4 linked regions of the Homo sapiens genome follow. The protein of the gene in region 1 purifies or fractionates together with the protein of each later gene. This does not show direct contact. Each region holds a gene or a part of one and is shown in the gene's direction. Other genes may lie near its edges.

Region 1 (4,111 bases):
AGGCAGGGAGGCAAGTGTGAGAAGGCCCTGGCCGAGGGAGCAGGACGCAGGGGTGAGAGGGCAGGAGGCAGGGGTGAGAGGCCCTGGGGAGGGGCAGGGGGCAGGGGTGAGGGGCCCTGGGAAGGGGCAGGGGGCAGGGGTGAAGGGCCCTGGGTGAGGGGGCAGGGGACAGGGGTGAGGGGCCCTGGGGAGGGGCAGGAGGCAGCAGCCACTCTTGGCCTGTGTGGGGGCTGCACCCACAGGAAGAATGGAGCATCCTGGCCCAGTCCCTATGGGTCTGCAGTGCTGTGGGGAACTGGGCACCCTGTGAAGACGGCCCGGCCACTGGGGCTGTGCTGGGCACACAGGCCCCGGTGCCGGGGGGGGAGCTGGGGGAGCTGCAGGAGGCCGGGGAGTTAGGCCCACTTGGGTTTTGCCCCTCACCACTGATATGATCGTGGGCACCTGGTTTACACCCCTGGAAATGGGTCACCGTTGTGGCCAGGGGACTGCCAGCCAGCCTGAGCGCTCCACAGCAGACCCACAGACATAGGTAGCTACCCAGCGTACTCCTCATTTCAAAGATCAGGAAACTGGCCTGGCGCGGTGGCTCATGCCTGTAATCCCAGCACTTTGGGAGGCCGAGGCGGGTGGATCACTTGAGGCCAGGAGTTTGAGACCAGCCTGGCCAACATGGCAAAACCCCGTCCCTACTAAAAATACAAGACTTAACCGGGCGTGGTGGCGCACACCTGTAGTCCCAGCTACTCAGGAGGCTGAGGCAGGAGAATCGCTTGAACCCAGGAGGCAGAGGCTGCAGTGAGCTGAGATTGTGCCACTGCACTCCAGCCTGGGCGATGGAGCAAGACTCTGTCTCAGGAAAAAAAAAAAAAGAAAAAAAAAATCAAGAAACCGAGGCACAGAAGGGTTGGGTAACTTATCCAAGGCTGCACAGCCAGGAAGAGGCCAGGCGGGCTGCAAGCCTGGGTGATCAGGCTCCAGGGCCGGGCTCCACACTGCCCCCGGGTGGTGATGCCTGGTGCAGCAGAGGCCCTCCCCACTGTCACTGTCACTCTGGTCGCTGGCGCTGTGCCTCCGGCCTCCGGAGCTCTGACTGCCCACTGCGTCTGGCACACATTTCAAAGGGCCAGGCGTGGGGTGGCACAGGAAAGTGCTGGAGGCTCTGGTCCGTTGCCCATCAGTGCCCACAGCCCTCGCAGCGCAGGCCAGAACGAGCCCAAAAAAACAAGTGTCATGTGGGGTGGGGGTCACCGAGCCCCAGGTGGTGTGGGTGGAGCTCCTCTTCCTCTCAGGCTCCGAGACGGCCCCAGCAGCGTCCACCGCTGTCCATATGCCAGGAGGGTGGCTGGGCAGGCTGCTGTCTAGGCCAGGCTAACCCCTGCGGTGGGCGTGGGTGTCACCAGGGCCGATGGCGCTTGTGCAGAAACCCACGTCTCTGAGCTGCCAGCAGCCAAGCTGTCCTGATGACATTCCCGGGTGGGCGCACAAGCCTGCACTGTCCGTATAGAATCGGCCCAGGCTGTGCAGCAGGGGAACCCGGAGCCCGGACCCCGCCACGGAGGCCAGGCTGCCGTGCACCATCCTGGGTGTCCTCGTGGTGCTCCGGGCGCAGGTGGCAGCAGCCATGGAGGAGCTGGACCGGCAGAAGGTGGCTTCTCCTTCTTAGTTGGTGGGGCTCCTCCTACACCCCCAACCCCTCAGGCTCAGGGAAGGAGGCCTCTCCCGGTGTGGGGAGCTCGTGGGGACGCTGGTGCCCGGCTAGACACTTCCTGTTAGCGGCATTTTCTTCTCCGCTGAGTCTGTGCCGGCTGCTGGGCCAGAGGCACATTAGCAGGCCCAGAGAAGGTAGATGCCGGAGACGAAGATTCTTTCCTCCCGAAAATGGTAGGGTTTTTAAAAGTCTCAGCGGAAGTCCCGGCTCTGGGCGGGTTGCTGAGGGCAGGAGGCCCATCCTCTGGCGTGGTTGGCAGGCTGGCGAGCTGCGCTACCCGAGCCACCTGTTCTCTGGCGTTTCTCACTCCGCCGCGCCCTGCGGGCTTTCTTTTCCAGGCCTCTGCTCCTGGGTCCTGCCTCCGAGGTCAGGCAGGGCCTGTGGTTCCTCCCGACATGTCGCAGAAGCCCTAGGGACTGTTCCGCAGCTCTAGATGGCCCAGTGGGGAGGGGCTGCCCTGTGGGCATTGCTGTCTGATGGCCTGAAGGCACCGCTTGGAGGGACACATGCCTGGGGACAGTGGGCTCACAGATGTCTTGCTGCTTTGCCACCGAGCCTCACAGCCATCTGCTGACCTCTCAGAGCCCAGCAGGCCCCTGCCCGGGGGTTCGTGGAATGCCCCTGGGGGTCTCAGACCCACTGCTCAGCTCTTGGCCAGGCTCCGTATCTCTCTAGATTGGAGGATTCTGGAGGGAAGTCGGTGTGGCCTCCGATCAAAGCCTGGTGCTGACGGCCCCGAAGCGGGTGGAGGGCTTGTTCCTCACCTTGAGCGGGAGTAACCTGACCGTGAAGGTTGCATATAACAGGTAAGAGGCCTGGGGGCTGCTGGAGAGGAAGAGGCATGCATGGCCGGGGACTGGGCGTGGGTTGCTGCACCCGCTGCAGCGTGGGGTCTGGGCTGAGTGCCGTCCCGCTGGTGGGCCAGCACTCCCGGTGCCCGTCTGCCTGAGCCCTCGACCCCCAGGCTCCTGGATCTGCATTTTATCCCAAATATAAGCATAGTGTTTTAATGAAGCCCCGTGAACTTAGAAGGAAGGAAAAGGGGTGTGGGACAGGTGACTGGCTGGAGGGAACAGAATCCCCAGGGGAAGGCCCCACCTGGCACATTCCCCGCCTCATCCTGCTCCAGGCCTGGGATACTCCACAGTGCTGCCTGTGCCCTTCCTAAAGACACAGCCCCACTCCGGGAAGGAGCCCAGCAGGCGGGACACAGGCTAGCATTTTACCGATGGGCACTTTGCTGCCTTTCAGCTCAGGAAGCTGTGAGATAGAGAAGATCGTGGGCTCAGAAATAGACAGTACGGGAAAATTCGCTTTTCCTGGTAAGTGCAGTTGCCCTGTGATGGCAGGTGGAACCCGGCTGTGCACACAGCTAGGCCTTATTGTTCCCCATGCTGTTCCCTGCACTGTTCCCCATGCTGTTCCCTGCACTGTTCTCTGTGCTGTTCCCTGCACTGTTCCCCATGCTGTTCCCTGAACTATTCCCTGTGCTGTTCCCCATGTTGTTCCCTGCACTGCTCCCTGCACTGTTCCACATGCTGTTTCCTGCACTATTCCCCATGCTGTTCCCTGCACTTTTCTCTGCGCCATTCCCCATGCGTTCCCTGCACTGTTCCCTGCACTGTTCCCCATGCTGTTCCCTGCGCTGTTCCCCATGCTGTTCCCTGCACTGTTCCTCATGCTGTTCCCTGCGCTGTTCCACATGCTGTTCCCTGCGCTGTTCCCCATGCTGTTCCCTGCACTGTTCCCCATGCTGTTCCCTGCAATGCTCCCTGCACTGTTCCCCGCACTGCTCCCTGCACTGTTCCCCATGCTGTTTCCTGCACTATTCCCCATGCTGTTCCCTGCACTTTTCTCTGTGCCGTTCCCCATGCATTCCCTGCACTGTTCCCTGCACTGTTCCCCATGCTGTTCCCTGCAATGCTCCCTGCACTGTTCCCCGCACTGCTCCCTGCACTATTCCCCATGCTGTTCCCTGCACTTTTCTCTGTGCCGTTCCCCATGCATTCCCTGCACTGTTCCCTGCACTGTTCCCCATGCTGTTCCCTGCACTGTTCCCCATGCTGTTTCCTGCACCGTTCCCCATGCTGTTCCCTGCAGGGTTCCCTGCACTGTTCCCCATGCTGTTCCCTGCACATTTCATGCCCCAGACCTTCCCATTCTCCCACCAACACACTGGATCATCCTTCAAAAGCTTCTGTAGTGTCTCCAACCACTCAAGTGCTGGGACTGGGTGGGGGCAGGATGGAGTTAGACCCTGCAGACCCTGGCCTTCGAGGTCCGTCCCCCTCAGACGTCTCCCCCAACGCCATGGCCGGCTCTTGAAGGCCACAGAGAGATCCACGTGCTGGACACCGACTACGAGGGCTACGCCATCCTGCGGGTGTCCCTGATGTGGCG
Region 2 (2,205 bases), on another chromosome or scaffold:
AAAACAAAAAACAAAACCAATAACTCAGTAAGCAGATTAAACAAAGGTAGAGACGGAGCCCTCCACCCCTCTCACACACTCATCCTCACACCCAGCTATACCACACCCCACAAATGTTGCTTATGTTTCCTTGGTCATTCTGTCCATCCTCCTGTCTGTCCAAAGCCAAGGACACTGCTCTACTCTAAATTTTTTGTCCCGAAGCCCCCAAATACTGCAACCCTGACCCAATGCACGAAGCCACCCCAAAATACAGCAGAGGACACCAGGACTTTCATTTTCCCTCAGTATGGCCCATCCTTTGGGTATGCCAACTCCATGTCCACCAAGCACTGCATGTAGGACAGGGCACAGTTTGGAGGCCTTGGTCCAGCCACTGCCCCAGACCCACCTTGGCTCTCTCCTCACTAACACCCGAGAAGCCCAGACTTCCCAGTGTTTAGCAACAGATTAAACTCTAAGCCAACAACAACAGAACAGGGTGGAGTGAGTGGAAAGCAAATGAAATGTTAAAAAAAAAAAAAAAGCAATACTTGCATTCTCATTAGTAGGAACATGTGAGATGAAGCATGTTATGTTATTAGGCATTCTCTTGATTCGGTAAACACAAGCTGAATAAATTTATAAATATCAGCATTAAGCGAGATTTAACGGGGAGCTGTTTATCTTCTGCCTGTCAGGCAGGCGGCAACACTCTCCATGTATCACTCGCCAGCCGTGCAGTCCTCACTCTCTTGCCCAGGTAAGCTGGGGAAGAGCCTGCTGCCGCCCAGCTCTGGTTGTGGAAGGGCTGGCACCAAGGAGCTGCGAGCTTACCTCAACTCATCTCACCTCACCATGCCGGCTGCGAGGCGGCCCGTGCAGTCCGTGCGCAGGAGGTCACACTCCCATGCTGCATCCCAGCCCCTCCAGAAGCAGAGCATGACCTGGGTGACTTTGAGGATGCTATTTAACCTCTCTAAGCTAAAGCTCCTCGACTGCAGCATCAACAGATCAGTGCCGACCTGTTAAGGCCGTCGAGAGCATCAAATGCTACTGTTCAGCAGGTGCCTGACACATAGTAGGTCCACAAGCAAATGATTTTCCTGCTTGCATCATTTCTAGCACAGAGCTGGAGGAAATGGCGAGGTGCAGGTGGCCGCTGGGCCCTGCTGTTCTACATGGGAGCAAGACAGCTGCTAGGTGAAGGGGAATGACCAGGCAGCCACAGGGAGGACATGTGGCCTCAGGAAGCCTGGGTGTGTATCCTGGTTCTGCTAGGAACACGTGTGGGGCTTTGTGTGGGTGACTCTCTGGCTCCCCAAGCCTCCCTTTCCTACTGTTATATCCTTAAAGTGCCTCTGAGGCCAAAGCCTTTGTGGCAATTGTCAAATGAGTCCATATGCAGTGAGTACCGTGTTGAGGGAGGACAAGGTCACCAAGAGCTGAGAATGTTTCTCCGACTGATGAGACCTAGATATTGGGTACATGGAGGTCCCCGGTCCCTTTGTGATTCCTGCAGCCTGTTGCCTCCTTGCCTGGACCCCGCCTCAGCTCAGAAAGCCAATTCCCTAGATTCCAAAGGCCTTCCCAGACCAATTAGCATGTCCTGCAGCTGTCAGCTCCCTGTGCCTAGCCTGGACCTCAGCTCATGTCTAGCACCCAGTCTCCCAACCCCACACATATTCACAAATAAAAGAAAATAACAAATGACATGAATTCTTCACTCCTGGTCTGGCTTGCTGTGTGTAAACTGCTATGACAATACAAGACGCAGAGGCGGGTACCCAATAAAAGCTGTTGAAAATGTGACTGACACCGAGTTTCAGCTATCCAGGAAGGCACGGATCCTTACAAGGTCCAAGCAGAGTCCTCGAGAATAGTTGAGAATTCTTGGGTTCCATATGAACTAGGAGATACCCACACAAAGGCTTGGATTTCCCAATACATAACTACCCCTGAACACTCCTTCTTTCCCTCGTCTCTCTGCTGAGACCTCTAGACCCTAAGGATCCACCCAGGACAACCTCTCCAAAGGTACCCTGATATGCTTTTCTTCCAGGCAGCATTTCCACAGAGCTGTGGGTGAAAGTCACAGGATGAAAATGTGCCATGGGACTGTATCTCCCACCAACACACTGCAGGCAAGGGGCACACAGAGTGCCCCCTCTGCCCATCCCAGGAATGGCCATCTAAGAATGATGCAATCTTTTCTAAAAAGAAAGT
Region 3 (3,500 bases), on another chromosome or scaffold:
ATGGCTTTAAGGTGACTCTTCTGAGTATAGTACCACTGATCTTGCAGACAGCTGTGTTTACAGAGCCTTATCTTGTGTCTTTGCCTCCTCAGCCTTGTGGTCAACAAGAGTTCTTATCATGGAGAATCTCTGATTTCTTAATCACCAGGTTTTTATTTCAAAGAGGATCTTAGAAATTACTATGTAACATGGATTGCTATTGGAATATACTCTGATAAAGAGGCAAGCTTCCTTAAGTGACATTTCTGCTTTCCCCATCCCTGACAGACAGCTATTAGAGGCAAGCATGGTAGGTTTGAGTAGAAGCCAGATTTGAGGTTAGCTTGGCCCAAAATGGACTGTAATCTAAAGAACACTGAAGATCCAATATTGGTTCCAGTTTTGGAGATTGTTATTCAAATAAGATTGCTTTAGTGCTTGCTTCAGCAGCACATATACTAAAATTGGAACGATACAGAGAAGATTAGCATGGCCCTGCACAAGGATGACATGCAAATTCTTATAGAGTTCCATATATTTCTCTACTTATATTAAATTATAAAGATTGCTTTAATCAAGGACCATTGAAACCAGTTAAGTCCCACTGAATAACAGATTCAGGCTAAGCACCTTCTCTTCTCAAAGCATCAAGCAATGGGTCTTCTTGGTGTGGTTATCTGGGGAGTTTGTCCTTAAGTGTCGTGGACCCTCCGCTTCCTGCCTCATGAACCTACCAGAACTGGATTAACTCCCAGGAGTGTGGTATGCTGAATGCTGATTCCATGCATTCTTCTCAGCATTGAACTACCCTAATTTCTTAGGTGATTGCTTTTGCATTATTTATACTTGGTTTTATAGCCATTTTTTAATACTTGGACTGTGTTTGAGACCCAATTTTCTGTAGTTTTATTTGAATCCGAAATTACAAAGTTAATTTAAGTATTCCAAACCCCTAACCTAAGAAAGCCAAACTTGATATCTCTTCGACATGAGTTTAAATTTATACTTCTTAAAAAGCTTTTTGATTAAAAACAAAGCTTTGAAAAAAGTTTAAATATTGTTCACCTAAGAGTATGTTGGAAATGTTACCTGCAAAGTAGTTATGACGATATTGTTGAGAAAATTCACCCTCAAGTAATTTTTAAATTGTTTTTTTTTTTTTTTTAAGAGACAAGGTCTCACTATGTTGCCCAGGCTGGTCTTGAACTCCTGGGCTCAAGCAGTCTGCCAACCTCGGCCTCCCAAACCCAAAGTGCTAGGATTACAGGTGTAAGCCACCATGCCCATCCCCAAGTAATTTTTAAAGTTTCTCTGGAAATTGGTTTTAATATTGAAACTAAGGTAATCTGAAAAATAATGCAGTTTCTAAATTGACCCCAAGCCCTCAATATATTGGCCTGTCCTTCAAAATGTAATATGCCTTCTAAAAATAAAGTCTGCATTTCCATGTTCATTTGCCTTTTTAATAAGATTATGCCAGAGAACAAGAATTAACTTTATGGGGGCTTACATTTAGTCATTAGTGTTAATTCGTTACTTCAAACAAAACACTCCTAATGGAAGTACTGCTACCCTTGTTAAGCTTCTTCTAATGGGGAATCTCCTTCTCTCTGCTTGTAAGTGCTTCATGTATTTATTGAGTCATCTGTGTTGTGCTTATAGTTCACCAGGCACTGAGAAGGACACAAATAGGATTATATTTTACTCTACCTAAAGGAGCTTGTGATTTCATAAGGGAATTAAATATAGCCAAAGTATTAGATAAAATGGGTGAATGCCATGAAAGTAGTAGGAAGCAGGGAATTGGGGAGGATTCTTGGAAAGATTTATATTTGAGCTGAGATGATTTTGGAGGACGTGAGCATGGTGGGGGACATTCCAGACACAGATAAGAGTCCTTTTAACTGTAGTACCAGATGAAGGCAGGGGAGTTGTGTGTTGAAAAAGTAAAATGGTTTCAGACTGTAGAGAAAACTTTAAAAACTACATTAAAGAGTTTGAACTTTGTTCTGAGAATGGTGGAGCATAATTTAAAGGTTTCGAAGAGAGAAGTATCAAAGTACAGAAGGGATTTGAATAGGGAAGAGATAGTAGAGGACAGGAAATGGACTAAGTTTGACCTAGGATGCCAGCAATAGGAATGGGAAAAACAAAAAAAATCTTACAGCTTACTTGGGGAAAAGGAAGTCAAAGGTGAACTGAAGACTACTGATGTCATCATCAGAAAAAGGGATGTGCATAGAAGTGTTTGGAGAAGAAAATGATGAGCTCAGTGTGGGACATGTTGGAGAGCTGCCGGATATTCAGACACTATCCCAAAGCAGGCCAATGGAGTACAGGACTGGAGCACTCAAACTATGGGCTGCATAGGATTTAACGTTTTTGAGGAAGCCATGTTGAAGTCGTTTTTGAAGCTCTCCAGATAGGTAATATTGACAGGAAAAGATTGTGAAAAGAGGACTAAGAACAGTTCTGTGAGCATGGTATGCCCTAGTTAGATATGCAGAATTCAATCTTTTTTAGGATTTTTTTCTCTTAATTTTTACATCCTTTTCAATTCCATTATTTTATTCTGAAAGACATTTTCAGTTTCCACATTCTTTATGCATGTTCTTCTTGGCCTTTGAAATCTAAGATTCTAAATAAGAAAAGATTTTACATAATGTTTCTACTACCTTATTGCACTAAATTTTTCCTTTTTTTTAAGCTCTCCCCTTTATTGCTGTCTCTGGCATGTGGCATGGCATGGACTGTAATTATAGACATCAGGAACAGAAACATGAGGTTTAAATATGAACAAATGAATCTTTGAAAGGGGAGGACTTTCTGTGACTCTGACCACATGTTCACAGGCATTTTTTATAAACATCCCCTTGCATCATACCATACAAAAGATCTATAAATTCTGTTATCATGCTTATTATACAAGCAAATATTATAGTTGTTGCCATCTTATAAAACGTTATCTTTAAAGAGAGAGTTAAAGCAAGCTTATGTCTTTTTGTATGAGCTCTAGGCTGTATTTATTTTAAGTTTTTATTTATGAAAGATAAGTTAACATTCTTTAATTTCTTTAGGCTCTGAAGAAAGCTGATAAGCAAGTTTTGGAGCCTCTGATGAATCTTGAGGTTACAGTAGCTAGAGATTATCTCAGCCCTGTCCTGGCAGATCTGGCACAAAGAAGAGGAAACATTCAGGAAATTCAGACTCGCCAGGACAACAAAGTTGTTATTGGATTTGTTCCCTTAGCAGAAATTATGGTAGGTACTTTGTAACTGAAAAGTACATATTCTTCTTAATTCAGGGGATATTATATGCCAATGAATAGACAATCAGTAACCTGAAAGAAACATTAAGGCTTTGATTTAGAGAATACATGTTAAGTTTCGTTTCAACCAGCAGGAATGGTTAGGACTTTGAATTTAAATTGTTGGCGAAATCCAGGGATTATAGCACTACAAGGGGGTATTTACAGTCCCAAAATGTGGTACCAGCCTATATGACCATTTTTTCCCTGCCAA
Region 4 (3,500 bases), on another chromosome or scaffold:
CAAACACCCTTCAATGGCTTAATTTTACTTAGTGGTCATTCATATTCTTACTCCTGGTTATCTCTATAGTTGTATCTTTTTTTTTTTTTTTTTTGACAGGGAGTCTCTGTTGTCACCCAGGCTGGAGTGCAATGGTGCAATCTTGGCTTACTGCAACCTCCGCCTCTCGGGTCCAAGCAATTCTACTGACTCAGTAGCTGGGATTACAGGCACATGCCACCATGCCCAGCTAATTTTTGTATTTTTAGTAGAGACGGGGTTTCACTATGTTGGCCAGGCTGGTCTTGGGCTCCCGACCTCAGGTGATCTGCCTACCTCAGCCTCCCAAAGTGCTGGGATTATATAGGTGTGAGCCACCACACCTGGCCTATAGTTGTATCTTGAATGCTTCCCCCCTTCACACTCTCACACCAGCCATTATGAAATTTTTTTGTTCTCCTTCAGGCCTCTACATATGCCAAGTTGCCTCTGCCACAATCATTCTTCCTAAATTTTAGCCTGTCCCCTTTATGTTCTTTAGGACTTAGCTGGAGTGCCTTTACTGATGTAAGCTGGACTAGGTACTCATCCTTTGTAATTTCATAGTACTTTATTCCCCCAGTTCCCATCGCATTATCAAGCTATGTAAGAAAAAAAAGCAATGTGCTGCTCACTAGTGTCTAGCAAAAAACTTGATATTTAGTAGGCACTGGGTAGTTGAATGAATGAACAGGAGCCTGCATAGTCCAAGGAATTATTTGCCTGTGGCATTAAGCAACCAACCTTCCTGGATCCTAGTCCATGCTGTGGGATTTGGTTATCTTTTCCTGCCCCATTCCCACCCATTGATTCTTTTAAGTATCCCAGTTGGGTCACTGTCACTCTCCATAGTTTTTAGGTGCTCCCTATTGCGTCTAGGTTAAACCATCCCTTTGCCTTTCCATAATGTGGCCTCCAGTGCCCTGCCCTCTAGAGCTGTTTCCTGAGCCTCATGTAGCCAAACAAGCAAGCGTCTCATTCATGCCTTGCACTCTCCTAGCTGTGATTTTTTTTTTTTTTTTGAGACAGTCTTGCTTTTTCACCTAAGCCGGAGTGCAGTGGCGTGATCTCAGCTCACTGCAACCTCCGTCTCCTGGGTTCAAGTGATTCTCCTGCCTCAGCCTCCCGAGTAGCTGGGACTACAGGCATGTGCCACCCAGCCCAGCTAATTTCTGTATTTTTAGTAGAGACAGGGTTTCACCATGTTGGCCAGGCTGGTCTGGAACTCCTGGCCTCAAGTGATCTGCCCACCTTGGCCTCCCAAAGTGCTGGGATTACAGGCGTGAGCCACCGCTCCCGGCTAGCTGGGACTCTTGACTATGTCTTCTCCCTCTATCCAAAACTTCCTTCCTTCAAGGCCAGTTTCTTCAGAAAACTACTCAGAACCCAGAAATCCAGAGAACTGCTACTGTCTGTGCCTGTCATTCAGCTAGTAGCCACATGCTGCCTCACCATATTGTATCTTCTCAATTTTGTGACTCTGCCCTGACTGGTGCTTCTTGTGGGCATAACCCAAAACAGCAGACCTCAGTTTGCTGGTTACCTAAGGAAAAAGCAAGACATGGATGAGTAGTTAAGACAAATGGGTTTAAATAAGCTGAGCCAAAGCCCAAGAGATTTGCTAGTAACCAAAAGTATTTGGAGTTGTATTTGAATATATTACCCCTGCTGACACTCCCACATGGTTCTGACTTAATCTCTTTCTTGCCATAGGCCTGGGCTCTAACATCTTCCGCCTGCTAGACAGCCTGCGGGCCCTGTCAGGCCAGGCTGGATGTCGCCTCCGTGCCCTGCATCTCAGTGACCTGTTCTCACCACTGCCCATCCTGGAGCTGACACGTGCTATCGTGCGAGCACTGCCCCTGCTACGGGTCCTCTCTATTCGTGTTGACCACCCAAGCCAGCGGGACAACCCTGGTGTGCCAGGGAATGCAGGGCCCCCTAGCCACATAATAGGCGATGAGGAGATACCAGGTGAAGCACTGTGTGTGTGTTTGTGTGTGTGCACGCACGTGTATCCCCACACAAAGGTGCAGATGCATTCGTATGGGGAAAGGGGAAGGACCTCTTCTATCACTCATTCCTGGCTTATCTGGAACCTATCCCCCCTTTAGAGCCTACCACTAAGATACTCTTGAGCTAGACAGGGCCTAAACCACCATAAGACCAGCAGAGAGTGACCAAGGCAGCTTGGTCTCCAGAAAAGGAAAAGAACTGATCTTTAGACTGGATTAGTTCCCCTGCTGTATGTTCCCTTAGTTCTTGTATGTCTCCTATCCCACCACTCTGCATACTTTATTTGCTTGTGTCTGGGTAGCCTGTCTTCCTGGTCTAAAATTTCTACAAGGGCAAGGACTAAATCTCATATTTAGTGCTCAATTCCTAGAATCTAGCACAGTGCTGACATATGGTAGGCACTCAACGACAAGTGAATGAATAAATAATTTTTTAGATGAATCCCTTAAGAACAGGATGGGACCTGCTATGGGAGTGAGGTAGAGATGGCCAGCTGGAATCTTCTTTCCCCACCATATCCAGAAAACTGCCTGGAGCAGTTGGAGATGGGATTTCCACGGGGAGCCCAGCCAGCCCCACTGCTGTGCTCCGTTCTGAAGGCCTCGGGTTCTCTGCAGCAGCTGTCCCTGGATAGTGCCACCTTTGCCTCTCCCCAGGATTTTGGGCTTGTTTTGCAAACACTCAAAGGTAGGACCCAGCCAGAATGGTGAAGGGAGAGGAGTAGGTGGGGACCTAGCACTGTTCTCTAGGAAAGCTAAGGTCCATGGTCCATGGTCTCTGCCTCCTATCCAGAGTACAACCTAGCCCTGAAAAGACTGAGCTTCCATGACATGAATCTCGCTGACTGTCAGAGCGAGGTGCTCTTTTTGCTACAGAATCTGACTCTGCAAGGTAAGTTCCTTATTCAGAACCTGGACATTTCCTGGGTCTTCACTATGGTTCTGCCATAATCTGAGTGAGCAAACCACTGTTCCTTTCTTGGCCTTGTGTCCTCAGCTATAAAATGGATATAGAACCTGCATGATTTTCCTTCTAAAAGCCCCAACCTCAATTCCTCCTCTACTAAACATGAGAAATCGCTCTTTTAGAGTGCTTCACCCAAAAGTTGCTCTTACCTTTCAGAGGTGGACAAAATGGTGGTGGTGGGGCAAAATAAATGTACTGTGCCAGGCTCCCCTCATAGACTTTTCTCTGATCCCCACCCCCGCATAGAGGGTGGCCAGTGTTAGGGAAAGAAGGAAGTGAATGGAGAATTGTCCATGCAGAGAACCTTCTTATAGGGAACATTTAGGTTCAGTCTTTAGTTTGGATTCTGATTTAGTTCCAGCCTTGCTTGGAGTCTAGACAAATTCCTTCCTCTTTTTGGGCCTCTATAATGTTAATACCCCTTGCTAGGGCCAACTGGGGCAGGAGGGGCAGCACCAGTCCTAATGCAGCCATCAGAATTTACTATAATTTTTCTTGAC

Evidence for each region. The genes of interacting proteins can lie anywhere in the genome.
Region 2: the proteins of LCN8 (region 1) and FAHD2A purify together in Homo sapiens (affinity purification with mass spectrometry; one large-scale study listed by BioGRID and IntAct). This does not show direct contact.
Region 3: the proteins of LCN8 (region 1) and GFM2 purify together in Homo sapiens (affinity purification with mass spectrometry; one large-scale study listed by BioGRID and IntAct). This does not show direct contact.
Region 4: the proteins of LCN8 (region 1) and LRRC41 purify together in Homo sapiens (affinity purification with mass spectrometry; one large-scale study listed by BioGRID and IntAct). This does not show direct contact.

Annotation. Positions count from the first base shown.
Region 1 is NC_000009.12:136,755,444-136,759,554, reverse strand, and holds the start of LCN8 (epididymal-specific lipocalin-8), read left to right. Parts: upstream 1-1,311; 5' UTR 1,312-1,624; coding exon 1,625-1,648; intron 1,649-2,386; coding exon 2,387-2,517; intron 2,518-2,962; coding exon 2,963-3,033; intron 3,034-3,102; exon of another isoform or gene 3,103-4,038; coding exon 4,039-4,111. UniProt on the Homo sapiens protein: May play a role in male fertility. May act as a retinoid carrier protein within the epididymis.
Region 2 is NC_000002.12:95,414,912-95,417,116, forward strand, and holds the end of FAHD2A (oxaloacetate tautomerase FAHD2A, mitochondrial), read left to right. Parts: 3' UTR 1-1,705; downstream 1,706-2,205. UniProt on the Homo sapiens protein: Tautomerase that converts enol-oxaloacetate, a strong inhibitor of succinate dehydrogenase, to the physiological keto form of oxaloacetate. It is thereby required to maximize aerobic respiration efficiency by preventing succinate dehydrogenase inhibition.
Region 3 is NC_000005.10:74,722,118-74,725,617, reverse strand, and holds part of GFM2 (ribosome-releasing factor 2, mitochondrial), read left to right. Parts: intron 1-3,056; coding exon 3,057-3,239; intron 3,240-3,500.
Region 4 is NC_000001.11:46,279,617-46,283,116, reverse strand, and holds part of LRRC41 (leucine-rich repeat-containing protein 41), read left to right. Parts: intron 1-1,731; coding exon 1,732-1,992; intron 1,993-2,556; coding exon 2,557-2,721; intron 2,722-2,826; coding exon 2,827-2,925; intron 2,926-3,500. UniProt on the Homo sapiens protein: Probable substrate recognition component of an ECS (Elongin BC-CUL2/5-SOCS-box protein) E3 ubiquitin ligase complex which mediates the ubiquitination and subsequent proteasomal degradation of target proteins.